Linked DNA regions of Homo sapiens. The protein of the gene in region 7 interacts with the protein of the main gene of each other region in a pairwise test. Each region holds a gene or a part of one and is shown on either strand. Other genes may lie near its edges. The genes, in order: MFF, FDFT1, UBE2J1, SERF1A, C3orf52, TMBIM6 and TMX2.

What was found.
Region 1: the proteins of TMX2 (region 7) and MFF interact in binary tests that used the Homo sapiens proteins (3 or more experiments, as listed by UniProt).
Region 2: the proteins of TMX2 (region 7) and FDFT1 interact in binary tests that used the Homo sapiens proteins (3 or more experiments, as listed by UniProt).
Region 3: the proteins of TMX2 (region 7) and UBE2J1 interact in binary tests that used the Homo sapiens proteins (3 or more experiments, as listed by UniProt).
Region 4: the proteins of TMX2 (region 7) and SERF1A interact in binary tests that used the Homo sapiens proteins (3 or more experiments, as listed by UniProt).
Region 5: the proteins of TMX2 (region 7) and C3orf52 interact in binary tests that used the Homo sapiens proteins (3 or more experiments, as listed by UniProt).
Region 6: the proteins of TMX2 (region 7) and TMBIM6 interact in binary tests that used the Homo sapiens proteins (3 or more experiments, as listed by UniProt).

Annotation. Positions count from the first base shown.
Region 1 is NC_000002.12:227,349,251-227,352,750, reverse strand, and holds part of MFF (mitochondrial fission factor), read right to left. Parts: intron 238-3,500; coding exon 178-237; intron 1-177. UniProt on the Homo sapiens protein: Plays a role in mitochondrial and peroxisomal fission. Promotes the recruitment and association of the fission mediator dynamin-related protein 1 (DNM1L) to the mitochondrial surface.
Region 2 is NC_000008.11:11,819,741-11,823,240, reverse strand, and holds part of FDFT1 (squalene synthase), read right to left. Parts: intron 1,492-3,500; coding exon 1,363-1,491; intron 1-1,362. UniProt on the Homo sapiens protein: Catalyzes the condensation of 2 farnesyl pyrophosphate (FPP) moieties to form squalene. Proceeds in two distinct steps.
Region 3 is NC_000006.12:89,332,223-89,335,722, forward strand, and holds part of UBE2J1 (ubiquitin-conjugating enzyme E2 J1), read right to left. Parts: intron 3,210-3,500; coding exon 3,080-3,209; intron 984-3,079; coding exon 864-983; intron 1-863. UniProt on the Homo sapiens protein: Catalyzes the covalent attachment of ubiquitin to other proteins. Functions in the selective degradation of misfolded membrane proteins from the endoplasmic reticulum (ERAD) and is essential for cells to recover from ER stress.
Region 4 is NC_000005.10:70,899,449-70,903,468, reverse strand, and holds the start of SERF1A (small EDRK-rich factor 1), read right to left. Parts: upstream 2,801-4,020; 5' UTR 2,600-2,800; coding exon 2,593-2,599; intron 1,645-2,592; coding exon 1,536-1,644; intron 1-1,535. UniProt on the Homo sapiens protein: Positive regulator of amyloid protein aggregation and proteotoxicity. Induces conformational changes in amyloid proteins, such as APP, HTT, and SNCA, driving them into compact formations preceding the formation of aggregates.
Region 5 is NC_000003.12:112,103,389-112,106,888, reverse strand, and holds part of C3orf52 (TPA-induced transmembrane protein), read right to left. Parts: intron 1-3,500. UniProt on the Homo sapiens protein: Has a role in LIPH-mediated synthesis of 2-acyl lysophosphatidic acid (LPA). LPA is a bioactive lipid mediator involved in different biological processes, and necessary to promote hair formation and growth.
Region 6 is NC_000012.12:49,758,557-49,761,995, reverse strand, and holds part of TMBIM6 (bax inhibitor 1), read right to left. Parts: intron 3,314-3,439; coding exon 3,234-3,313; intron 2,776-3,233; coding exon 2,675-2,775; intron 293-2,674; coding exon 217-292; intron 1-216. UniProt on the Homo sapiens protein: Endoplasmic reticulum (ER)-resident protein that confers cellular protection as an anti-apoptotic protein by limiting multiple stress-inducing pathways surrounding the endoplasmic reticulum and mitochondria.
Region 7 is NC_000011.10:57,715,593-57,719,092, forward strand, and holds part of TMX2 (thioredoxin-related transmembrane protein 2 isoform 1 precursor), read left to right. Parts: intron 1-2,256; exon of another isoform or gene 2,257-2,974; intron 2,975-3,500.

The DNA.
Region 1 (3,500 bases), on a different chromosome or scaffold from region 7:
AAATGTCATGACTGATTATTCACTGTTCTTAGAGAGAAGCAAGATGTACTCATCGAGGAAAGCTGTAGAAACAAGTTCAGCTACAAACACAGGCATGGCTACGACATGCAACATGCCCTGCAACACACAAATTCCGCCAAGCATTTACCCTGGTAATTACGAAGTCTCAAAATTTACCTGACGTTGTCATGATGAGGATTAGAAGTGGCGGCAGCAGACCCACCACGCAACACAGGTCTAAGGCAGGTTTTTGCGGGAGAAGGCACAAGACAGAATCAGGAAACAGAGAAGTAATAAAATAAAAGCAAAAACAAGACAAATAAATGTCAAATAGGATTATATTGTATATTTCAATACAATATAATATCTCTCAACTACTTTAAAAAATCCTTGTCTCATGTGTCCTCCATTTTATCATTTTCATAAACTCAACATTACTATTGATCAAAGAAACAAAGGGAATCTATATTTACACGACAAAACAGCACCAACATATAAAATAATTTTCTTGGTGCTTTACTTTATGAAATTTAAGACAGAGGACAACTCTGCTTAAAAAGTGTAATTCCTTTCTTCCAGTTGGAAAAAAAAAATCACTAGCACCTTTAAAAGCATATCAGGACCTGGTTAGCTGCACCGGTATGACCACAGTTGCTCATCTGATATCAACAGCTCTATCTCAAAAACCGTATTCATAAATTTCAAGAAACTCCATTTCCCACACTTCCTTCCCTCCCACCTCATTAATTTTGAGTAGTGCCTGATGTCTCGTTGCAGCTGTGTCTCATTCAAACTCTCAGCTCTCCAGAGTGAAAATGCAAGCCTCCACTCTGAAGCTGAGATCAGGAGACGTGCTAGAGCACATTACAGGAAGGGCAATCCACAATTTGAGTCTGATCTTGAGACAGCCAGGAGTGACATACAGGGCTGCTGGAAATGAAGACTAAGGTGCAATGGGAAACTTGGTGGGGATTTCCACTCATTCTCAGTATATACTTTGGCGCTAGAGGACAGTTAGCTTTCTACTTTGATAAGCAGTAACCTTTCCAATACGTTTTATCTTTTAAAATCAGAAAACAAAAGCTTCTAAGTGTTCACTGGTCAATTCCCCCTAAAACAATCAGCAATATTTACTAAGCAGAGAAAGGAGACTGGAGTGTTGGATCCATATAAAGATTTGAAGAATTATTAAATCCTATTTTGGATATCTCATTCTCTAAGTAACTGATCTGGTTTTGCCTGAATTTAAGTATCAAGACAATAATTATATAATGGTAAATGTTTAATACCAAATGCACTAATTTTTTCTGTAAGTTGGCACAGCTGTGGAATTTTGACTACAATACAAATTATTTTCTGATAATTCAATTCATGTAAGAAAATTCTAATGTTTAACTTCTACATGTCTTAAAGGTACTACCAGTGCTTAAAGAAATTTCTGGAGCCTAGATGATAAGGGATTCAGAGACTTTTTGGGGGAACATGTTTGACTTTTATTTTACTGGCTAAAAAACATGGAGAAATCACATATGCTTAAGACAGGTCTTTAACTCATCTCATCCTACTAACATATTTACTCTGTGGCATTAGGAAACCTGTTATTTAACTACAATCTTAAATTGCACTAACATGAAAATGGTTAACTAGATGAAGCCATCACTGTGTGCTTCCTAAAGCTTTTTAAAATGCACACAGTATGTTCAAATGGGTCTGTCATATTCAACCTATTCCACCACAGAGATTTCCCTTTTATAACGCAGAGCCAGAAAATAATACAGTTACCTTTCACAACGTATTTCATTTTGTCTTCTCACACTGGCAATTGACACATATATTGTAAAAGTAAATTAGACAGGTATGTGGCAAAGTTAGAAACTTCATTCAAGTACCATTTTCTACGATAAGTATGATTTAATACATAAAATCTTCTCAACAGTATGTTTTGTAGAGTGGCAAAAGGGAAAGAAATCCAAGGCTACCACCAAGCTCCGCCATTAACTTGCGTACTGACATTTTTTGAGTAAATACACTCTGACGTAACAGAATATGTGTTTCTTTGCTATAAAAATGTAATCTGCTACAGAAAATAAAGTTTAATTGGGGATCAGGAATTATACACTTTTTTAAAGAGAAAAATTATAAATAACAAACGCTGTATCCACTGCAACTCTGGATTTCTAGGTCTTCCAAGCTGTATATTTATAGGGATACTTGCCAAAAATATAAATTATTCATACATTGGTTTCTTATTCTATGCACTCAAAGCTGGTACAATCTGTTAAGGAAAAACTGCATAAAAATAATCAAGCCCCTCGTAAAAATGAGAGCTAAGCATGACTCATCTATCAATATTTAAATAAGGTTCTTACACAGGAACTAAGTTTCTTTTTGAAGATGCGAATATTTTACATTGTAAAATGAGATACATAGCTCTAACAGATACAGGGAGAGACCGGCATTTTCTAACCAGTTAAGGACCAAATCATAATAGTATTTTAATTTCTGCTGCACCTGAGCAAATGACACACCTGGTGCTTTGGTAAATTTTCAGTGTATCAGTTCTCCAAATGCGTAACACTCACCTGTGTAAATAAACTTTTCTAACATGTACCTAGGATTTAACTTGGTTTTCACGTTGAGTTTGGTTTAGATCATCTACATTCTTGTAAGAAAAAAATATATGGTACACAAACCTTTTGACAGCGTCCTTTAAAATGTAAACTGAACACAGTTCTTATGTCAAGGAATTGTGAATCTGCATTACTTCATAGTGATAAAGCAAGCAGAAAGCTTTTTTCTTTTTCTGCCAAATAGTTCTAGTTTAAATTAACTACACCTAATGTGATGGCATATGACCAAAGATAAGGTATTGCATTAGCATAATAGCCAAGAGTAATAAAATAGAAAAGAAAAAATGATCTACAGAGCAAGGAACATAGAAGCACTTAAAATTTTATAAGCAGTATTATTTTATAATCATGCAAGTAGAACATTATCCAAATTTCACATTCCTATTTCTTATATCTGAAAAGTCATGCCAGATACTTCTCACAAAGGAAATAAAAACTGATTTGGCACTTAAAATTCTGATAAAATCTTGCTCAACACTGAGATCCTAAGTGAATACAACTTTAAAAAATCCTTTCAATACTGAAAGCGTCAATAAGACTGATGAGAATCTAACCCTCCAAGCTCCAAGGTAACAACTAATGCTACAGATCTAGGAGAAAAGCATTATTAATATAACTCCTTCATGAACTTTTAAAAACTTACTGAAATGAATGAGAAAAGAGAATTCCTTCCCAGAAAAGGGATTTTAGAGTTATCAATTCATCACAATGTAAAAAAGTGAAATAAAATTTCACTGAAAGTCCAAAAATATTTTTCATTATTAAAAAAATACAAAGTTTATACTAATACGATTTTTGATTTTATACATTTGACTCTGAGGCACAATTTTTTTTCCATTATGGAGGAAAAAATCCATATTTTTATAAGTT
Region 2 (3,500 bases), on a different chromosome or scaffold from region 7:
GGTCATGCCTGTAATCCCAACATTTGAGAGGCCAGAGTGGGAGGACTGTTTGATGCCAGGAGTTTGAGACTAGCCTGGGCAACATGGCAAAACCCTCTCTCTACAAAAAATGTACAAAAATGAGCCTGGTATGGTGTCATGCACTGTAGTTACAGCTACTCGGTAGGCTGAGGTGGGAGGATCACCTGAGCCCAGGAGGTTGAGGCTGCGGGGAGCCGTGATCACACCACTACACACCAGCCTGGATAACAGCAAGACCCTGTCTCAAAAAAAATTTTTTTTAATTCAATTTTATCTGATCAAAACTTCTATTCAACAACCTAAAATTAAGTTTCCTGAATAAATCTGCACAACAGAAAATGAGTTACTATCATAACCAGTGCTGGTTCTTGGCCAGAAGTTTTAACTTCAACTTTATTTTCTTTCAGATGGTGTCTTGCTCTGTCACCCACGTTGGAGTGCAGTGGCACAATCATGGCTCACTGCAACCTTCAACTCTTGGGCTCAAGCAATCCTCCCACACCTCAGCCTCCAGAGTAGCTGGGACCACAGGCACATGCCACCAATTCCCTGCTCATTTTTTAATTTTTTGAAAGACGGGGTCTCGCTATGTTGCTTAGGCTTGTGTCTAACTCCTGGGCTCAAATGATCCTCCCACCTCAGCCTCCCAAAGTGCTGAGATTACAGGTAAACCATAGTACCCGGCTAACTTCACCTTAAATGCAGAAATTGATTTCTAGCAGTCATTGTATGCTGTTAACTTAGGAAGCACAAATCAGCAGTTCCAAAGATAACTGCTGTCAAGTTTTGAGGTTTGAAAAATTAAGAGGCCCAAGACCTTGGACCTACACTAACGTAGTGACCATGTAGCAGCATCTTTTCGGAGATCCTAATTTAAGCACAGTTAAAGGTATGAAATACATCAACACTTTAGATGTCTGAAATGTCTCTGCCTGCTAAATCTGACTGGCTTTAAAATAAATAAATAAAATGTCTTTACTTCCACAGAAGTGATGAGTAAGTCTCACAAACACCATTCCTATGAAAAATAGGCAAGACTCCTAACCCTACCTTATGTTTTGATGTGTAGTTTTAATCTTCATGGTCAATTACATCCCTTTGTCTAGATAAGCACTTCTCTCCAGTACCCTACTCCTAGCCTGGCTGATATCCTACATAGCTGCTGGTTTGGAATTAACTCTGGAATAAACTGTTTATGATGAGACATTCAACCTAAACAGATGAATTGTAAAACCAGAGGGGCTGAAAATACTGGACAACTTTTCTTGTTCTGAGCTTCACTATGAGGACTGCCAGCTCTGTCTAATACATCACACACAGACACTGTTTTATGAGACTAACCTTGTCCCACTCCTGTTCAGAGGTCACATGCTTATCCAAAAACTCTGCCATCCCAATGCCCATTCTCCGGCAAATGTCGGCAATCACTGTTTGGTATTTCTCAGCCAGATTTCTAAACTCAAGGGAGATCTGAAATGGAAACCGTAAAAACACAGAAATCATGAAATATGTACAGACATGGCACCAAAGATCACAAGGCAAACAATGGCGGAATTAATCATGACTGCAATGGTTCATCTATAAGCCTAATTTAGGTCACACATTTTTTTTGTTTTTGTTTTTGTTTTTGAGATGGAGTCTCGCAATGTTGCCCAGGCTGGAGTGCAATGGCACGATCTCAGCTCACTGCAAACTCCGCCTCCCAGGTTCAAATGATTCTCCTGCCTCAGCCTCTCCAGGAGCTGGCATTACAGGCATGCACCACCACGCCCAGCTAATTTTTATATTTTTAGTAGAAGTGGGGTTTCACCATGTTGGCCAAGCTGGTCTCAAATTCCTGACCTCATGATCCACTAGCCCTGGCCTCCCAAACTGCTGGGATTACAGGCATAAGCCACTGAGCCCGGCCTCATGTTTCTTATTATTTCATAAATTTCATAAATATTAAAATAGAATGGTCTAAAAATGCTAATGTTTCTAGATTCAAAAGAAGATTCAAAGTCTCACTACACATTTCATCTTTCCAATGTATAATGAGATGCTTCAACATAAAGCTGGGTTTAAGTTTTTGGGAGAACAGCTTGTTTAGAGAAACCTCATTATGAGAAAGATTCATTTGTGCAAACATGGATCAAGCACTTCCTATGTAACAAGTATCATTCTAGGCACTGGGGATATACATCAGGGCAACAAACAGAAACTCAGACCCAGAGTTGCTTCCAAGATGTCCCAGTAGGAACAGCTCTGGTCTACAGCTCCCAGCAAGATCGATGCAGAAGATGGGTGATTTCTGCATTTCCAACTGAGGTACCTGGTTCATCTCACTGGCACTGGTTGGACAGTGGGTGCAGCCCATGGAGGGTGAGCCAAAGCAGGGCAGGACGTCACCTCATCCAGGAAGTGCAAGGGGTCAGGGGATTTCCCTTTCCTAGCCAAGGAAAGGCGTGAGTGACTGTACCTGGAGGAACAGTATACTCTGCCCAAATACTGTGCTTTTCCCAGTCTTCGCAACTGGCAGAGCAGGTGATTGCCTCCAGTGCCTGGCTCGGGGGGTCCCATGCCCATGGAACCTTGCTTGCTGCTAGCCAAGCAGTCTGAGATCAAGCTGGGATGCTGGAGCTTGGTGAGGGGAAGCGCCTCCCCGCCATTGCTGAGGCTTCAGTACGCACTTCTATGCTCACAGTGTAAACAAAGCAGCAAGGAAGCTTGAACTGGGTGGAGCCCACCGCAGCTCAGCAAGGCCTACTGCCTCTCTAGATTGCATCTCTGGGGGCAGGGCATATCTAAACAAAAGGCAGCAGACGGCTTCTGCAGATTTAAACATCCCTGCCTGACAGCTCTGAAGAGAGCAGTGGTTCTCCCAGCTCGGCATTTGAACTCCAGTAACGGACAGACTGCCTCCTCAAGTGGGTCCCTGAGCCCCATGTAGCCTGACTGGGAGGAGACACCTCCCAGTAGGGGCCGACAGACACCTCATATAGGTGGGTGTCCTTCTTGGACGAAGCTTCCAGAGGAAGGATCAGGCCGCGATATTTGCTGTTCTGCAGCCTCCACTGGTGATACCCAGGTAAACAGGGTCTAGAGTGGACCTCCAGCAACTCCAACAGACCTGCAGCTGACGGGCCTCTGTTAGAAGGAAAACTAACAAACAAAGGAATAGGATCAATATCAACAAAAAGGACACCCACACCAAAACCCATCTGTACGTCACCAAAATCAAAGACCAAAGGTAGATAAAACCACAAAGATGGGGAGAAACCACAGCAGAAAGGCTGAAAATTCCAAAAACAGAACGCCTCTTCTCCTCCAAAGGAACGTAACTCCTCACCAGCAAAGGAACAAAACTGGATGGACAATGAGTTTAACGAGTTGACAGAAGTAGGCTTCAGAAGGTTGGTAATAACAAACTTCTCCAAGCTAAAGCAGCACGTTCTGACCGATCGCAAGGAAACTTAAAACCTTGAGAAAAGGTTGGACAA
Region 3 (3,500 bases), on a different chromosome or scaffold from region 7:
GACTACTTAACCAAACAATCTGTTACCAAAAAGACTTCCAAAGACAGTTAATCTTTTATATATAGGAAGGAAAATCATTTTTTTCCCATAATCCTTATTTTTTGGCACCAATCCAGTCATATTTTTTAAATCACTCTCTCTGATCACCTAGGCCAAACAATTTCTTAGACAACAGGTCAGGGCACCACTAACAACACTCATAGCATTCATTCTTTTATTCAACAATTATTTATTGGACACTTAGTATATACGAGGTAGCATTGTCCAACAGAATTTTGTGATGATAGTAATGTTTATGTCTACACTGTCCAATATGGTACCCATTAGCCACATGTGGCTATGGAGCACTTGAAATGTGGTGTGACTGAGGAACTGAATTTTAAATTCTACTTGATTTTGATTAAATTTAAATGTAGACACCTGCATGTGGCTGGTGGCTACTGTGTTGGACAGAGCAAGTCTAAGTAAATTTTTGGCTCTACGACTTTATTAAGTCAGTACCTTAATGCAGCTGAACAATCCTGCCAAAAATAGTGTCTATTTAGAAAGTGGCTAACATATGGATATTTTGTTTTATTCAGTCTAACACTATATTAAAATTAACTTTTCAGAGAATCACAGAATTCTGGAGGGACAAGACAAAAATTATTTAATCCAGCCCCATTTAACAAAAAAAGAAAACTGAGGCCAGAAAGCATGAACAACTTGCTCAACATAATAATTCATTAGCGGGACTGATGAGTTAGAATCCAGTTGTTAAGAGAACCAAATTTTTCAGATATTTGATCCAGGATCTTCTCCTCCTATTGCAAACAGTGATAATGATAGAGACATACATATATATTAAAAGATAAGAGCCATACCGATGTACTGGCCGTAGCACCCTGGAATGTTGTAGGTATATCATCTTGTAAATCAGTTAGTGAAAAAGAGTGGTTTAAGTCTGACTCAGAGATAGTCTTTCCAGATGAATTGACTTCTGCCTATAAACAAGATAGACCCAAGAGCAGTGTGACAACAGGAAACAACAGGAAACATACACAATCTACAACCTGCTAAATCCTCTCTGTTGGATTTATTTTAATTGCTAGTTTAATATCTATTATCAGGCAGTTAATCACTGAGCACTCTTGTGTCCAACACTGTACTAGGTATCATAGGAAGAAGCATACACAACACCTGTTCTCAAGAAGCCGTTACTTGATGAGGGACAAAACTAACACCCATGGTTCACAATCCACAATGCTAAAAAGCTCTCAAAACTCAAGGTTTTTTTGGTAATTTTTAGGCAAAGCCTGATATGAGCTGATGTGAACCTATGAATAGTCTTTATCCCACATTAGTGTAAACATTAATCCCACATTAATGTAATATTCCCAGATTTGCTGAAGAAATCCTAATGGATTTGATTATGAGGTGCTGCCCCAGATCGCACGGCAGGTTAGTTAATATATGGTATATGTAAGATCTTTTCTTAAGTCTGAAAAATTCTCATGTACAAAACACATTTGGTCCTGAGATTTTTCAGAAGCAATTTTAAGTGTAATAGGAATCCTCAGAAGGAAGAAAGTAAACATGTTCTGAGCAACTCCTCCTCCAGGCACTACAATAAAAGAGAAGGGAACTGGACCTGGAAAGACAGACAGTCCATAGAGAAGTGGAGAGGGAAGAGGAAGAGAGCATGCTGCTTAATGCAGGTTGACATTTCTGTTTGTGAAGCTAATTAAATTCCAGAAGGATTAAATACTTAATACTTTACGTCTGTATGTATGTATGTATTTATTTATTTATATTTTTTTGAGATGGAGTCTCACTCTGTCACCCAGGCTGGAGTGCAGAGGCACAATCTTGGCTCACTGCAACCTCCACCTTCCAGGTTCAAGCGATTCTCCTGACTCAGCCTCCCAAGTAGCTGGGATTACAGGCACACACCACCATGCCGAGCTAATTTTTTGTATTTTTAGTAGAGACAGGGTTTCACCGTGTTAGCCTGGATGGTCTCAATCTCCTGACCTCGTGATCTGCCTGTCTCGGCCTCCCAAAGTGCTGGGATTACAGGCGTGAGCCACTGCGCCCAGCTAATACCTTCAATAATTAAATATTTAATACTCAAAGTATTAAAATATTATATAATCCTATGTTCGGGTAAAACATATACAGAAAAAAGGGATATATAGGAGGGATGCCAAAATATTAACAGTAGCTATTTCTTGGCGGTGAGATTATGAATGTCATTTTCTTTTTCTTTTTTCTTTTTTTTTTTTTTGAGATGGAGTTTCGCTCTTGTTGCCCAGGCTGGAGTGCAATGGCGCGATCTCGGCTCACCGCAACCTCTGCCTCCCAGGTTCAAGCAATTCTCCTGCCTCAGCCTCCCGAGTAGCTGGGATTACAGGCATGTACCACCATGCTTGGCTAATTTTGTATTTTTAGTAGAGACGGGGTTTCTCCATGTTGAGGCTGGTCTCGAACTCCTGACTTCAGGTGATCCGCCCGCCTTGGCCTCCCAAAGTGCTGGGATTACAGGCGTGAGCCACCGCGCCCGGCCATCATTTTCTTCTTGTTGCTTATCTATATATTCTGTAATAATAGCTAGAATTTATTAAGCACCAGGGACAGTTCTGAATGCAACACATGTATTACATATATTAATTCAATCCTCACAGCAATCCTATGATTTAGGTACCATTATTATTTATAGATAATAAAAAGGCACAAAGTGGTTAATTAATATGTCTGACATCATACTACTAATAAGCAACAGAGCTGGGATTTGAACCCTGGCATTGTATACCAGAGTTCAAGTTTCACTCCCTCACTATTCTATAAAGCTTTCATGAATGTAGTTAGGAATTTTGTAATAAGAAAAACATTCCATGCCAGTATTAAAACATTTCATGTACCCTATACATATATACACCTACTATGTAACCACAGAAATTAAAAATATAAAAATATGAAAAAAGAAAAACATTGGCAAATGTCATATTGTAATAGAACTGCATCGCTTTCCTTTCTATGCAGAATCCAGCAGTAAACAAAAGGGTTGCAAGATTAGCATTTATTTAAGAATTTATAGTACCTTAAAGCTTATTTGCCTAGCCAGTTCTTTGGCTTCTTGGTCAGCTTGGCTTGAATCGCTTCCAGATTTTAAAGGCAACAGGACATCCTTCATGGCAGAGCCACATCCTTCACAACAGAAATCTTGTGATCTAGTAGAAAAAGATTTTTTAAATGAAAATAAATAGTTAAATGTTTAATTCCCTCTCACTGAGACACTCAAATGCTCGATCATTAAACTTAAAAGAAAGGAACACTGGAAAATTCCACATCACATTTATCCACATGCTATGAATTAGAAAATTAATGTAATGATTATAGTCCTGAGACAAGTAAATGTTAGGCTGGCTTTAAAAAAATCCAGGGCTCAGATGCTATTTTTTCCAATAAACTATCTAAAGAAAAATAAGTTTTACATCTATACAATGAGAAAATTGTCTATT
Region 4 (4,020 bases), on a different chromosome or scaffold from region 7:
GGCTCACTGCAACCTCCGCCTCCCAGGTTCAAGTGATTCTCCTGCCTTAGCCTCCCAAGTGGCTGGGACTACCCAGCCCACATACAGGTATTAAAAGATCACATGTACCCCCAAAATATGTACAACTATTGTAATTCAATTTTTTAAAAAAACAAAAAATCAAAACTGAGCATAACGCAAGGCTTGAGTAGCTGTCAAGGTTTCCCAGGTGATTCTAATGTGCAGCCAGGATTGAGAACCCCTAACAAGCCACACTGAAGCACATGCAGTCAGTTATTCGCTTAACCTCCAAGTTCCATATGGACAAAATCATTTGAGAATAAAATTAAGCTTTGATTAGCTCTTTTAGAAACATGAGTGTACTTTTTTTTACTTAAGCTGCAGTCTAAAGTATTTCTGTAGCAGTTTTACATTGGCACATATAGTCATATATTAAGGCTATGTACATGAATTCTCTCCAATGCAATGGATCTTCAGAAATCAGCACAGCTAGCTATTATGCATATACTTTTTTGTATCTTCTTGAGAACTATTATCATTATATATTAATAATTGAGTCCCTTGTCATTCAGAGTAGTTTGGGTAGGCTGTCTACTTTGAAAATGTTGTAACTCTAGCACCTCACAGTGTTTTGCATATAGAAGATGTTATTTTGCTGAATAAAGTTGTTTTTTTTTGTTTTGTTTTGTTTTTTTGATACAGAGTTTCCCGCTCAGTACCCAGGCTGGATTGCAATGGCACAATCTTCACTCGCTGCAACCTCCCCCTCCCGGTTTCAAGCGATTCTCCTGCCTCAGCCTCCCAAGTAACTGGGATTACAGGCATGTGCCACTGCACCCAGCTAATTTTGTATTTTTAGTAGAGATAGGGTTTCACTATGTTGGTCAGGCTGATCTCGATCTCCTGACCCCAGGTGATCCACCCACCTTGGCCTTCCAAAGTGCTGAGATTACAGGCGTGAGCCACCGCGCCCAGCCTATAAAAAGTTCTTATGGTTGTGGAGGAGCTGCATGAGTCTCTGTGAAACAAATAATAGCTTCAGAGCTTTACGTTTTTATCTATATGTTGGGATGTCTACCCCACGTGGTTTTAGTCCGCCTGGCACAAATCATTAGGCCCTGTTCTACCAAGGGCTTAACAAAATGCTTTCTGTTCCCCAAAATGAGGCCTTCTTTTTTTTTTTTTTTTTTTTTTTTTGAGACAGGGTCTAACTCTGCCATCCAGGCTGGAGTGCAGTGGTGCAATCGCAGCTTACTGCGGCCTTAACCTCCTGGGCTCAAGCGATTCTCCCGCCTCAGCCTCCAGAGTAGCCGAGACCACAGCCATGTGCTACCATGCCTGGCCAATTTAAAAAAATATTTTGTAGATACAGGGGCTGGCTATGTTGTCCAAGTTGGTCTCAAACTCTTGGCTTCAAGCAGTTCTCCCGACTCTCCCAAACTGCCGGGATTACAGGCATGAGGCAACACACCCAGCCCAAAATGTTGCTTCAATCACAACGTCAGTGACTTTAGAATTAAATTAGTACCACGTACCTCTGCTTTCTCTGAGAGGCAGTCAAGCTATCCTCTTTCCTCTTTCCCTTGCTAATTTCCTGGGTTTTCTTCATGTTTTTCTGGCGGGCAAGTTCTCGTTGATTTCCACCTACAAAGTCAAACAGTCATGCTCTTTTCCCATCTCCAAAATTATTAATAATTCCAATAAACAGGCCTTATTTAAATGCATCTTTAGTTTGTGTTTTCATAGATAAACTAGCAGAGTAACAGATTGATGGTGCTCCTAGATCTGACAATAAGGAAGTGGCTTAAACACTTAAAGACTTAAGAGTATTATCATACCAATCTAGGTGGTCACTAGCTATAAATACCAGATATTTTAAAACAGATATTCGAATCTTGGGCCGGTATCCCAAAATAAGTTCTGGCTTTTGAGGGGAGTGGGTGGAAGAGAAAGCTAGATACAGAGATCACAAGTTCAGCCCATCATTTGAGAGTTACCTTTATCCCCATGCAGAGGCGGAGAGGGGTGGATGGAGACTGAACAGATTGAAGGTAAGTCTGCGAAAGGCAGTGTGGGCCTTTACATCCTTATTCTAGCCACAACCCTGCAAGGTAGGCTTCATTGTTTTCATTTTGCAGAACAGACTGACCTAACACCTAGGACTGGTACAAACGAACATCAAATTTAGGACCGGCTCTAAAGCCTCCTGTTTATTCGGCTACTACCTGCGAGCGCCAAACAAAAGAACTAGGGAGGCGACTCACTGGAGTTCCCGGTCCTCATTAGGCCTTAAGACTTGAGGTATCAGCTATAAAGTACCTCCAAACAAGGACCCTCCTGGGGCGGCCGTGTCCACATCTCCGGGGTGTGTTCTTTACCGCACAAACTCGCACCTGAGGGGCAGGCACCCGTCCGGCCTGAAAAGCCGGACCGGAACCACCCGCGAGCTCTCTCTCTGCCGACTGAAGCGGGGATCCCCGCACTGCGCGACCCAGGGGGATTCTCCAGCCGGACTCCGCCTCCCCCGCCCGCCGCGCCTCAGCGCTAGGCTCCCACGCCGGACGCTCGCCGCCGCTTCCCACCCCCACTCACGGGCCATGCCGACCACCAACGGAGCCTGGAAGAAGAGCAACTCGGAAAAGCAACGGTTCTCTGGCACTCTGGGATACCGTCACCACCGCTGACCGGGAAGGCTGAGCCCTCGTGGGCCCTCCGCCCGGCTGCGCCTCCCCTCTGCTCCGCCAACGGCCCCGCCCGCTGGAGGCCCGACAACAGCCGCCGGCATGGCCGGCGCGTCACTGCGCGTGCGCGGCCGGGGCTGGGCCGGGGCTCCGAAGCTCGGCCGGGGCTCCGAGCTTGTTGAATTACATTTCCCTCATGCTACATTAGCACTAATTTTAAAAGGGATATACAATATGTATATCTCTATTATGTGATAAGTTAAGCTGTTGTATTCTGAAATTTAAAAGCATTATTTTCAGTGAAAAAAACCACACAAATAGAAATGTGTACAAAAAACTCACTGAATGATATTTCTTTAATAGTAAAGGCACAATATGTCAAAACCTCCTCTGTCCTTTTTGCAACGATGTAGAACTGCAAAGTTAGCTAATGTCATCTCCTAATTAAACAAAATCAACTGTGAGAAAATTAAACTGATTGCTTCACAATTACGGTTGAGCAAACACTCAGTTTGTCCCTATTTCATCTCCTGCTTTAGATCTTTGAGAAATTTCCCATTGTTTTGCTTCCTTAGATTTACAGGGAAGAATATCTTAATATTCTTTAATGAACTTGCATTTGTAGCATCTATACTAATGTTACATCAACTAGGCCTTATGCATACATATTTATAACTTAAAATATTCTGCACAAATATGATATATTTTAAAGTCTATACCTCTTATAAGTATTATCTTTTCTGCTGAAATTCAAGGCTATCAAATAAGTGTATGTTTTTAGAGTTGTACAGTGAGATTTGAAAGCAGTCATGATATAATCACTGTAATTTTTTTAATTAAATGGTGGCAGATAGGCCAGATAAATTGCGGGAAAGGGTCAGATAAATGATGTTATGAATGAGGTAAACTTTTATCATATTTTGTATTATTTGTTATCTATGCTTCTGTTTACATAGCAGGATGACTCTATTGCATTCTGTCATTAACACTGATTTGTCCATATCAGTGCAAGTGAAATCTGCCCTACCCTAAATGAACCAGTTATTTCTAACCTACACCATCAAGAAAAGGTTATGTCTATCAACCTCCATTACATATTATATAGAATATACACAATATACATTCTAGATATATGAAGTCTTTGCATACATCTGAGTTATGCGTATGAGTATACATTTATATATACTTATATATATGTTTAAGATATATATTTCTGAGGATCCATATATGTCAGTGAACATGTACTCAATGAACTTTCATTATTGTGCAAACATAAACAGTGCAGTGTTATGGGATATTCCAACCAATTATAAGATCAAATCTCTTCACTTATTCTATT
Region 5 (3,500 bases), on a different chromosome or scaffold from region 7:
ATGCAGTGGCTAATTAGAGACCAGCTTCCAGAATAAGGCAGGTGCCATCATTAACTCCTAACCCATGCACAGGGTGTGGTAGTCACACAGGCTGGCTTAAGCAGAGTAATGGCCCCAACCCTGAGAGGAAAACACTGTGGCAGTGACACATGGCAGGGCCTGTGTTTAGAAAAGTCAAGGGAAAGGGCATAAAGTTCCAATACTGTGATATAATAACAATATGTATACTGTTTAGTCTCTGCCCCAGTTCCTGGCACAGAATTCCTAAAACCCTTGTTACTTCCTGAGTGACAGGGGCGCCGGGTACATCTTTTACTCTAACATTTGGTCTTTACTCCAGCTCCTGACACAGACCTGCTCCTAAATCTCTTGCAGTTTCCTGGGTTATAGGAGTGTCTTTATTTCTGATGAGGCAACTCTTGGCGGGCTGCTGGATGGGGGCTGATCATCAGAAAGACCAAGCCGCAGCTAGAAGCTTGGAACTTTCAGCCAGTGTGGTGGAGTGGGATGGTGCATGCGTGTAGTCCCAGCTACTCGGGAGACTGAGCAGGGAGAATCGCTTGAGGCCAGGAGCTTGATATCAGCCTAGGCAATATAGTGAAAACTGTCTGGAGAAAAAAAAAAGAAGAAGAAGAAATCTGAAGCTTTTGGCCCCACCTCCACCCCCATCCTCCAGAGGGGAGAGAGGCTGGAAAGCAAGCTAATAATCCACCATGCCTATGTGAGGAAATCTCCATAAAAATCCCTAAAAGACAGAGTCTGGAGAGCTCCCAGGTGGCTGAACACATTTACAAGGGAGAGTGGCACACCTGAAAGGACATGGATGCCCACATTCTGTCCCACGTGTCCGCCCTATGTACCTTTTTATCTGGCTTTTGATATCCTCTATTTTCTACAGTGTGCCCATAAATGTGATGCTTCCCTGAGCTCTGTGAGCCATTCTAGCAAATGACCAAACCCAAGGTGGGGGTTTTGGAGACCTCCAATTTGCAGCTGGTTGGTCAGAAGCACAAGTGACAACCTAGACTTGTAACTGAACTGGCATCTTTTTTTTTTTTTTTTTTTGGAGACTAAGTCTCGCTCTGTTGCCCAGGCTGGAGTGCAGTGGCACGGTCTCGGCTCACTGCAAGCTCTGCCTGCCGGGTTCACACCATTCGCCTGCCTCAGCCTCCCGTAACTGGCATCTTAAATGAGGGAAGTTTTGTGGGGCTGAACCCTTAAACTATGGGGTCTGCACTAACTCCAGGCAGATCATGTCAGAATTGAACTGGATTGCAAGACACCCAGCTGGTGGCAGATAATTGGTTGGTGTGGAAAACACACACACACACACACACACACACACACACGGCCAAAGAAGTGTTCTGCATTGAATGTGGGTATAGAGAAAAAAATAATTTTTCCCCCACAAATACCCACTTCCATTTACCTTTTATATCCAGAAACTTCTGAAACTTGACCTAATGGAAGAAAGGAGTTATTGACCTGACAATAAGACAGCAATACCTTTAGGTGCTAATTTTTGTTCCTGAGCATATTTGGTTGACGAATGAAGGGCAGGAATCTGTCACCTCACTATGCCTTACTTTGATCATTTGTAAATAAGATAATTCTTTTAAAATGTTTTTCAAGTTATTTTTATGTAATCTCATTTGCACCTGAGATACACAGAGAAAGTGCACTGGTTTCCATTTATCAGCGAAGAAACTGGCTCAAAGAAATCTGTGGACCCACCACAGGCATCAATGTCAGTCCCTGTTCTTTTGCCACTACCTAGTGATGAGCTCAAAATACCCGCAGAATTTCCTCATATCTGACTCTGTGCAAGATATATGGTTGTAAAATGAAAAATGAACATTCATTTACCTTTGAAATAGACAGTCTACTATGCAACAGGTGACACATGTGGATGCTGACTCATCTTATTTCTGCTCAGCAAATGCAAAAACCTCTCCATTAAAAAAGCAGCCAAGAGGAAAGTAGCAAGAAGCGTCTCACTCAGCAACTTGCCCCAGGAAGCAGGTGGAAGGAAAGGAGAAAAGGAGGTGAAGATAAGACATAAATGAAGAGACTTCAAGGACTTGATGGAAAAGGTGGTGGGGGTGAGGGATAAAAGACTACAAATTGGGCACAGTGTACACTGCTCGGGTAATGGGTGCACCAAAATCTCAGAAATCACCACCAAAGAACTTATTCATGTAACCAAATACCACCTGGTCCCCCAAAACCTACGGAAATAAAAAATAAAAATAAATAAATAAATTTAAACAATCTAAAAAAAATTTAAAGATATAAATGAAGAGAAGGAGAAAGAGAAATCTGGAGTAATCATCACAGGATACCAACTCCTGTGATAAAAGAAGCAATGAAATCTCATGCGTGGGTACCCAGAAACTGATTCTGATGTGACCTGGATGGAATCGCCTCTTCAGGAGCTTTTGTAGGAATCAAATCGAATGGAAGTTAGATAAACAGCACTCACTCCATTCAACCTAGCAATGGCAGAGAAGAATTTAATGGAGGGCAGCCTGCTCTTGCCTAGATTTTCTTATCAAAATTTCTGGGTCTGGCTGTGAACCACCTTGTCTTTGACAGGATGATCAGGATGCCCCACCCAACGGTCCTAGTCTGGCTGCAGAGCTTCCATCTTCCACAGAGGGTTCATTCTCCTGGGTTTCTCATCCCATGACTGACACCGCCATCCATCTGCCCAATCACTCAACTGGAGCTTGGAGTCATGCTCTCCTCACCACCACCCAATCAGTCATGGACTCTTATTGAGTGAGAATACCTCTTAAATCTCACGCAAATCTTCCTTATTTTCCCGACACTGCCCTAGTTCAAGTCTCCCTCATTTCTCACCTGGACTATTGTAACACCTTCTAACTGATCTCTTCCTCCTGGCTTTCTCCACCAAAACACAGAAAGGCTAAAAGGAAAAATCTAACTGTGTCAATCTGCTGATTAAAATATTTTGGTGCCTTATTGAAGAGTGGGAAAGCCTTCATGACCTGACGCCTGCCTTCCTTTTTAGCCTTATCTCTGCCAGCTGTCACCACAAAGCATGGGAAGGCCACAGTACACTACTTTGCAGATCCTTTAATGTCCCATGCTTTTTTATTTAGAACATTCCTACCTCATTTCAAAACTCATCCTGAGCATCACTTCACTTAACAGGCCTTTCATGCCTTCATCTTCACCTGAGGTAGCTCAGATGCCCCTCCTTTGCCACTGTACAACACACTAGAACATACCACACTATTATAAAACGATCTTTTTAGTCACTTCCTGTACTTGGACTGTGAGACCCCTGAAGGCACAGACAATGTGGCCCTGGCACTTGGCATGCTGTCTAGCACATCACAGACCCTCAATGAATACTATAGGTTGAATTAAATGTAGGACCTAAGGGAGTAAAAAGAACAGTGTCCTCCAGCATTTATGCAGCTGGAGGCCAGGAATCTTCCCTCTGGCTTTGCACTACAGTAAAGATATTTACT
Region 6 (3,439 bases), on a different chromosome or scaffold from region 7:
TACTAAACGCAGGAATTAGTTAAAAAAATTTTTTTTTCACTTGCTGCTTTTTTTCTAACAACTGAAGACTTCTGGCTTACCTCTTACTCAGTGGCCTGCCTTACAGTTACCCTGGACCTAACACAGTGTGTGAGCAAGTTTTCAAATCTGAAGTATACACACATGCCAAGCTCAGGAGCCATTATTGTCTCATCTTTGGGTTGTAGGCTAACTAACCTTTTCATTCATGGCCAGGATCATCATGAGTTTTCTGAAGACAGTAATGAAATCTAAGAAGAGATCAATGCAGTGCCTGAAAGGCAAGAACCAGATTAGGATCTGTACTTCAGACTTTTTTATCCACAAGCCCACAAAGATGCAGAATATAAACCCCACCCCTACCCCCACGAGCCAGCTTCTCCCACACTTTACCCCCAACTAAGGAAGTAAAACTCTGGTGTCTGAGATCCTTTAGACTCATCGAAGTCATGCAGCATAGAGAAAAGAGACTGGGCCAGGCACAGTGGCTCATGCCTGTAATCCCAACATTTTGGGAGGCTGAGGCAGGTGGACTGCTTGAGCCCAGGAGTTCGAGACCAACCTGGGTAACATAGCAAAATCCCGTCTCTACAAAAATTAGCAGGGCATTGTGGCATGTGCCTGTAATCCCAGCTACTGAGGAGGCTGAGATGGGAGGAACACCTGAGCCCAGGGAGCTTGAGTCTACAGTAAGCCATGACAGTGCCACTCTCCTACTGCAGCTTGGGTGACAGAGCAAGCCCTGTCTCAAGCGCTCTGAACTCTGCAGAGGTCCAAGTCTGAACCCTTAACTACCACTAATTAGTCATGAGACTGAGAGAATCACTACATTAAAAAAAAAGTGCCGAGCACAGTGGCTCACACCTGTAATCCCAGCACTTTGGAAGGCTGAGGCGGGCATCACCTGAGTCAGGAGTTTGAGACCAGCCTGACCAACATGGAGAAACCCCATCTCTACTAAAAATACAAAATTAGCCGGGCATGGTGGTGCATGCCTGTAATCCCAGCTACTCAGGATGTTAAGGCAGGAGAAACACCTGAAGCCGGGAGACGGAGGCTGCGGTGAGCCAAGATCACACCGTTGCACTCCAGCCTGGGCAACAAGAGCGAAACTCCGTCTCAAAAAAAAAAAAGTGAGCTGGGCATGGTGGCCCATGTCTGTAATCCCACCACTTTGGGAGGCTGAGGAAGGCAGATTGCTTGAGGCCAAGAGTTCGACACCATGTCCTCACGGGGCAACGTGGCAAAACCTCGTTCTACTAAAATTACAGAAATTAGCTGGACGTGGTGGAGAGTGCCTGTAATCCCAGCTACTAGGGAGGCTGAGGCACAAGAATCGCTTGAACCCAGGAGGCGGAGGTTGCAGTGAGCTGAGATGTTGCCACCGCACTCCAGCCTGGGTGACAAAGCAAAACTGTCTCAAAAAAAAAAAAAAAAAAAAAAAGTGGCTGGGCATGGTGGCTTAAGCCTGTAATCCCAACACTTTGGGAAACCAAGGCAAGAGGACTGCTTGAGACCAATCTGGGCATATGGTAAGACCCCATCTCTACAAAAAATAAATTAGCCTGGCATGGTCGCACGTGCCTGTTGTCCCAGCTACTCAAGAGGCTGAGGCAGGAGTACTGCTTGAGCACAGTAAATTCAGGCTGCAGCGAGCTGTGTTCATGGCACCACACTACTGCCTAGGCAACAGAGCGAGACCCTGTCTCTAAAAAAAGAGTGTATCTTCTACTCATTGTTTAAAAAATACAGAAGTATAAATAGGAAAAGGAGAAAGATCTCTTTCCCTCACTTCTGCTTGGAGGTAGCCACTATGGATATGTAAATATATAGCCACCCCCCAACACTTTTTTTTTTTTTTTTTTTGAGAAGGAGTCTCGCTCTGTCGTCCAGGCTGGAGTGCAGTGGTGCAATCTCCGCTCACTGCAAGCTCCGCCTCCCCGGTTCACACCATTCTCCTGCCTCCGCCTCCTGAGTAGCTGGGACTACAGGTGCCCGCCACCACGCCCGACTAATTTTTTGTATTTTTAGTAGAGACAGGGTTTCACCGTGTTAGCCAGGATGGTTTCGATCTCCTGACCTCGTGATCCGCCTGCCCCGACCTCCCAAAGTGCTGGGATTACAGGCGTGAGCCACCGTGCCCGGCCCCCACACTTTTTTTTTTTTTTTTTTGAGACAGGGTCTCGCTCTGTTGCCAGGCTGGAGTGCAGTGGTGCAATCTTGGCTCACTTCAACCTCCACCTCCTAGGTTCAAATGATTCTTATACCTTAGCCTCCTGAGTAGCTGGGATTATATACATGTGCCACCATGCCCAGCTAATTTTTTTATATTTTTAGTAGAGATGGGATTTCGCCATGTTGCCCAGGCTGGTCTCAAACTTCTGAGCTCAAGCGATCCAGTGGCCTCAGCCTCCCAAAGTGCTAGGATTATAGGTGTGAGCCACCACACCTGGCCTATTAGCCCAGATTTTTAAAAAATCTGAAATCTTTCAGGAATTGAGGAAGATTATGGTACACAGTTCCAAAACCGTGGGTTTCCTACCACATACACTCCCAAAGCTTGGCCACCTATGTTCAGCCAATGCCAACCTAAGTTCAGCTGCTGAACGGTATGCCTCAACCTTCATGCTTGTTAAAGACTAGTTCCCACACTCACCAGATATAATCTTGATCTCCATGTTCGGCCTTTTCAATAATGAGTTGAGTATCAAAAAGGACGAAGCCACACATGACCACCAGTCCCACATACAGGTTTGCCTAACAAATGTAAGAGATGAAGTTACTATACAGCAGAAGTTGCAGAGAAAAAAAAACCAGCCATACTTTCTGGCTCATAGTCACTTGAAAGTACATCAAATGTGAACCCTATGAACATTACCATTCACGAGAACTGCAGCCTAGGGTGAAGACCACTTTACTTCCCTAGGCACAATACTGCACTGGTCACTGGAAGAGTTTCAATCATTTTAACAATCAGCCACTGCCAGACTGGCCTTACACAAATGGTGTCTGAGCAAACCATTTTCTCTTAGCAATGCCCAACCTTGTGCAGCCTGTTTTCACTTGTGGCAGAAGGCTCCATCCTATGAAGGATAATGGGAAGGCTTAGAGAGCACTGCCCAAAGTAGTACAGAAAGAAGTGCAAAAAAAAAAAAAAAAGGAAAGAAAGAAGTGTGAGGCAAATGGCTGCTGGAAAGTTCCAGGCTAAGTCTTACCTGGAAAAGCCAAATGGATCCAAAGAAAACATTCCCCAGGGAAGACAAAAGCAACAAGCTCAGGGCTGACATCAAGATACCTATAAGACACAGCAAAAAGCTGTCTTGAGAGAAGCCAAGGCAAAGTAAAGCAATCCCATTAAAGCCATTCCTTAACTTCCCCCAGAATGAAGGTTAATCTCAACTCAATAGTCGCAAAGGAGTTA
Region 7 (3,500 bases):
TTTTCTTTTATTGATCATTCTTGGGTGTTTCTCGCAGAGGGGGACTTGGCAGGGTCATAGGACAATAGTGGAGGGAAGGTTGGCAGATAAACAAGTGAACAAAGGTCTCTGGTTTTCCTAGGCAGAGGACCCTGCCGCCTTCCGCAGTGTTTGTGTCCCTGGGTACTTGAGATTAGGGAGTGGTGATGATTCTTAACGAGCATGCTGCCTTCAAGCATCTGTTTAACAAAGCACATCTTGCACCGCCCTTAATCCATTTAACCCTGAGTGGACACAGCACATGTTTCAGAGAGCACAGGGTTGGGGGTAAGGTCACCGATCAACAGGATCCCAAGGCAGAAGAATTTATCTTAGTACAGAACAAAATGAAAAGTTTCCCGTGTCTACTTCTTTCTACACAGACACGGCAACCATCCGATTTTTCAATCTTTTCCCCACCTTTCCCCCCTTTCTATTCCACAAAACCGCCATTGTCATCCCGGCCCGTTCTCAATGAGCTGTTGGGTACACCTCCCAGACGGGGTGGTGGCTGGGCAGAGGGGCTCCTCACTTCCTAGTAGGGGTGGCCGGGCAGAGGCGCCCCTCACCTCCCGGACCGGGCGGCTGGCCGGGCGGGGGGCTGACCCTCCCACCTCCCTCCTGGACGGGGCGGATGGCCGGGCGGGGGGCTGACCCCCCCCCACCTCCCTCCCGGATGTGGGGCTGACCCCCCCACCTCCCTCCCGGACGGGGCGGCTGGCCGGGCGGGGGGCTGACCCCCACACCTCCCTCCCGGACGGGGCGGCTGGCCGGGCGAGGGGCTGACCCCCCCACCTCCCTCCCGGACGGGGCGGCTGGCCGGGCGGGGGGCTGACCCCCCCACCTCCCTCCCGGACGGGGCGGCTGGCCGGGCTGAGGGGCTCCTCACTTCCCAGTAGGGGCGGCCGGGCAGAGGCGCCCCTCACCTCCCGGACGGGGCGGCTGGCCGGGCGGGGGGCTGACCCCACCTCCCTCCCGGACGGGGCGGCTGGCCGGGTGGGGGGCTGACCCCCCCACCTCCCTCCCGGACGGGGCGGCTGGCCGAGCGGGGGGCTGACCCCCCCACCTCCCTCCCGGACGGGGCGGCAGGCCGGGTGGGGGGCTGACTCCCCCACCTCCCTCCCGGACGGGGTGGCTGGCCAGGCAGAGGGGCTCCTCACTTCCCAGTAGGGGCGGCTGGGCAGAGGCGCCCCTCACCTCCCGGACGGGGCGGCTGGCCGGGCGGGGGGCTGACCCCCCCCACCTCCCTCCTGGACGGGGCGGCTGCCGGGCGGAGACGCTCCTCATTTCCCAGACGGGGTTGGTGCCGGGCAGAGGGGCTCCTCACTTCTCAGATGGGGCGGATGCTGGGCGGAGGGTCTCCTCACTTCTCAGACGGGGCGGCTGGGCAGAGACACTCCTCACCTCCCAGACGGGGTCGCGGCCGGGCAGAGGCGCTCCTCACATCCCGGACGGGGCGGCGGGGCAGAGGCGCTCCCCACATCTCAGACGATGGGCGGCCGGGCAGAGACGCTCCTCACTTCCCAGATGGGATGGCTGCTGGGAAGAGGCGCTCCTCACTTCCTAGATGGGATGGCGGCCGGGCAGAGACGCTCCTCACTTTCCAGACTGGGCAGCCAGGCAGAGGGGCTCTTCACGTCCCAGACGATGGGCGGCCAGGCAGAGACGCTCCTCACTTCCCAGACAGGGTGGCGGCCGGGCAGAGGCTGCAATCTCGGCACTTTGGGAGGCCAAGGCAGGCGGCTGGGAGATGGAGGTTGTAGCGAGCTGAGATCACGCCACTGCACTCCAGCCTGGGCACCATTGAGCACTGAGTGAACCAGACTCCGTCTGCAATCCCGGCACCTCGGGAGGCCAAGGCTGGCGGATCACTCGCGGTTAGGAGCTGGAGACCAGCCCGGCCAACACAGCGAAACCCCGTCTCCACCAAAAAAGTACGAAAACCAGTCAGGCGTGGTGGCGCTTGCCTGCAATCGCAGGCACTCGGTGGGCTGAGGCAGGAGAATCAGGCAGGGAGGTTGCAGTGAGCCGAGATGGCAGCAGTACAGTCCAGCTTCGGCTCGGCATCAGAGGGAGACCGTGGAAAGAGAGGGAGAGGGAGACCGAGAGGGAGAGGGGAGAGGGGAGAGGGGAGAGGGGAGAGGGAGAGGCAGAGGCAGAGGCAGAGGCCAGAATTTGTTTTCATTCTTTATTTTCTTTCCCTAGCTTTTTATTGTTGTTGTTATTTAGTTTTTATTTCATAATCATAAACTTAACTGCAATCCAGCTAGGCATGTAAGGGAACAAGGAAAACACGGAACCCAAAGGGAACTGCAGTGAGAGCACAAAGATTCTAGGATACTGCGAGCAAATGGGGTAGAGGGGTGCTCTCCTGAGAGGAGAGCACAGAAGGAATGGTCTGGTGGTGAAGACAAAACAAGTCAAACTTACTAGACTTATCCACAGTCAGCAATGGTGATCTTCTTGCTGGTCTTGCCATTCCTGGACCCAAAGCGCTCCATGGCCTCTGCAATATTCATGCCTTCTTTCACCTTGCCAAAGACCACATGCTTGCCATCCAACCACTCACTCTTGGCAGTGTAGATGAAAAGCTGGGAACCTTTTGTGTTGGGTCCAGCAATTGCCATGGACAAGGTGCCAGGACCTGTATGCTTTAGGATGAAGTTCTCATCATCAAATTTCTCCCCATAGATGGACTTGCCACCAGTGCCATTATGGCGTGTGAAGTCACCACCTGATACATAAACCCTGGAATAATTCTGTGAAAGCAGGAACTCTTACAACCAAATCCTTTTTGTCCAGTGCTCAGAGCACGAAAGTTTTCTGTTGTCTTTGGAACCTTGTCTGCAAACAGCTCGAAGGAGATGCGGCCCAGGGGCTCACCATCCACGGTGATGTCAAAGAACACGGGGTTGACCATGGCTGATAGTACAGGGCTCCTGGTGGTGGCAGCAAAGCCTCTTTGCCCAACTTTTTATATCTGTTTAGTTTTATCTATATCATTGTTTTCCTCCATTCATTTATTCTGAAATAACCCCCCCTCTTTTTTTTTTTTTTTTTTTTGAGATGGAGTCTCACTCTGTTGCCCAGGCTGGAGTTCAGTGGTGTGATCTTGGCTCACTGCAACCTCCGTCTCCTGGGTTCAAGTAATTCTCCTGCCTCAGCCTCCCGAGAAGCTGGGACTACAGGTGCCTGCCACCACGTCTGGCTAAATTTTGTATTTTTAGTAGAGACGGGGTTTCACCATGTTGGCCTGGCTTGTCTCTTAACTCCTGACCTCATGATCCGCCCGCCTTGGCCTCCCAAAGTGCTGGGATTACAGGTGTGAGCCACCGCGCCCAGCCACAAAGGATTTTTAAAAAGAGCTTTCTGGTCAGAAGTTGGCTTAACTAAAAGCTGATATTCAGGCCATATATATATATATTTTTTTTTTTTTTTTTTTTTTGAGACAGAGTCTCACTGTCACCCAGGCTGGAGTGCAG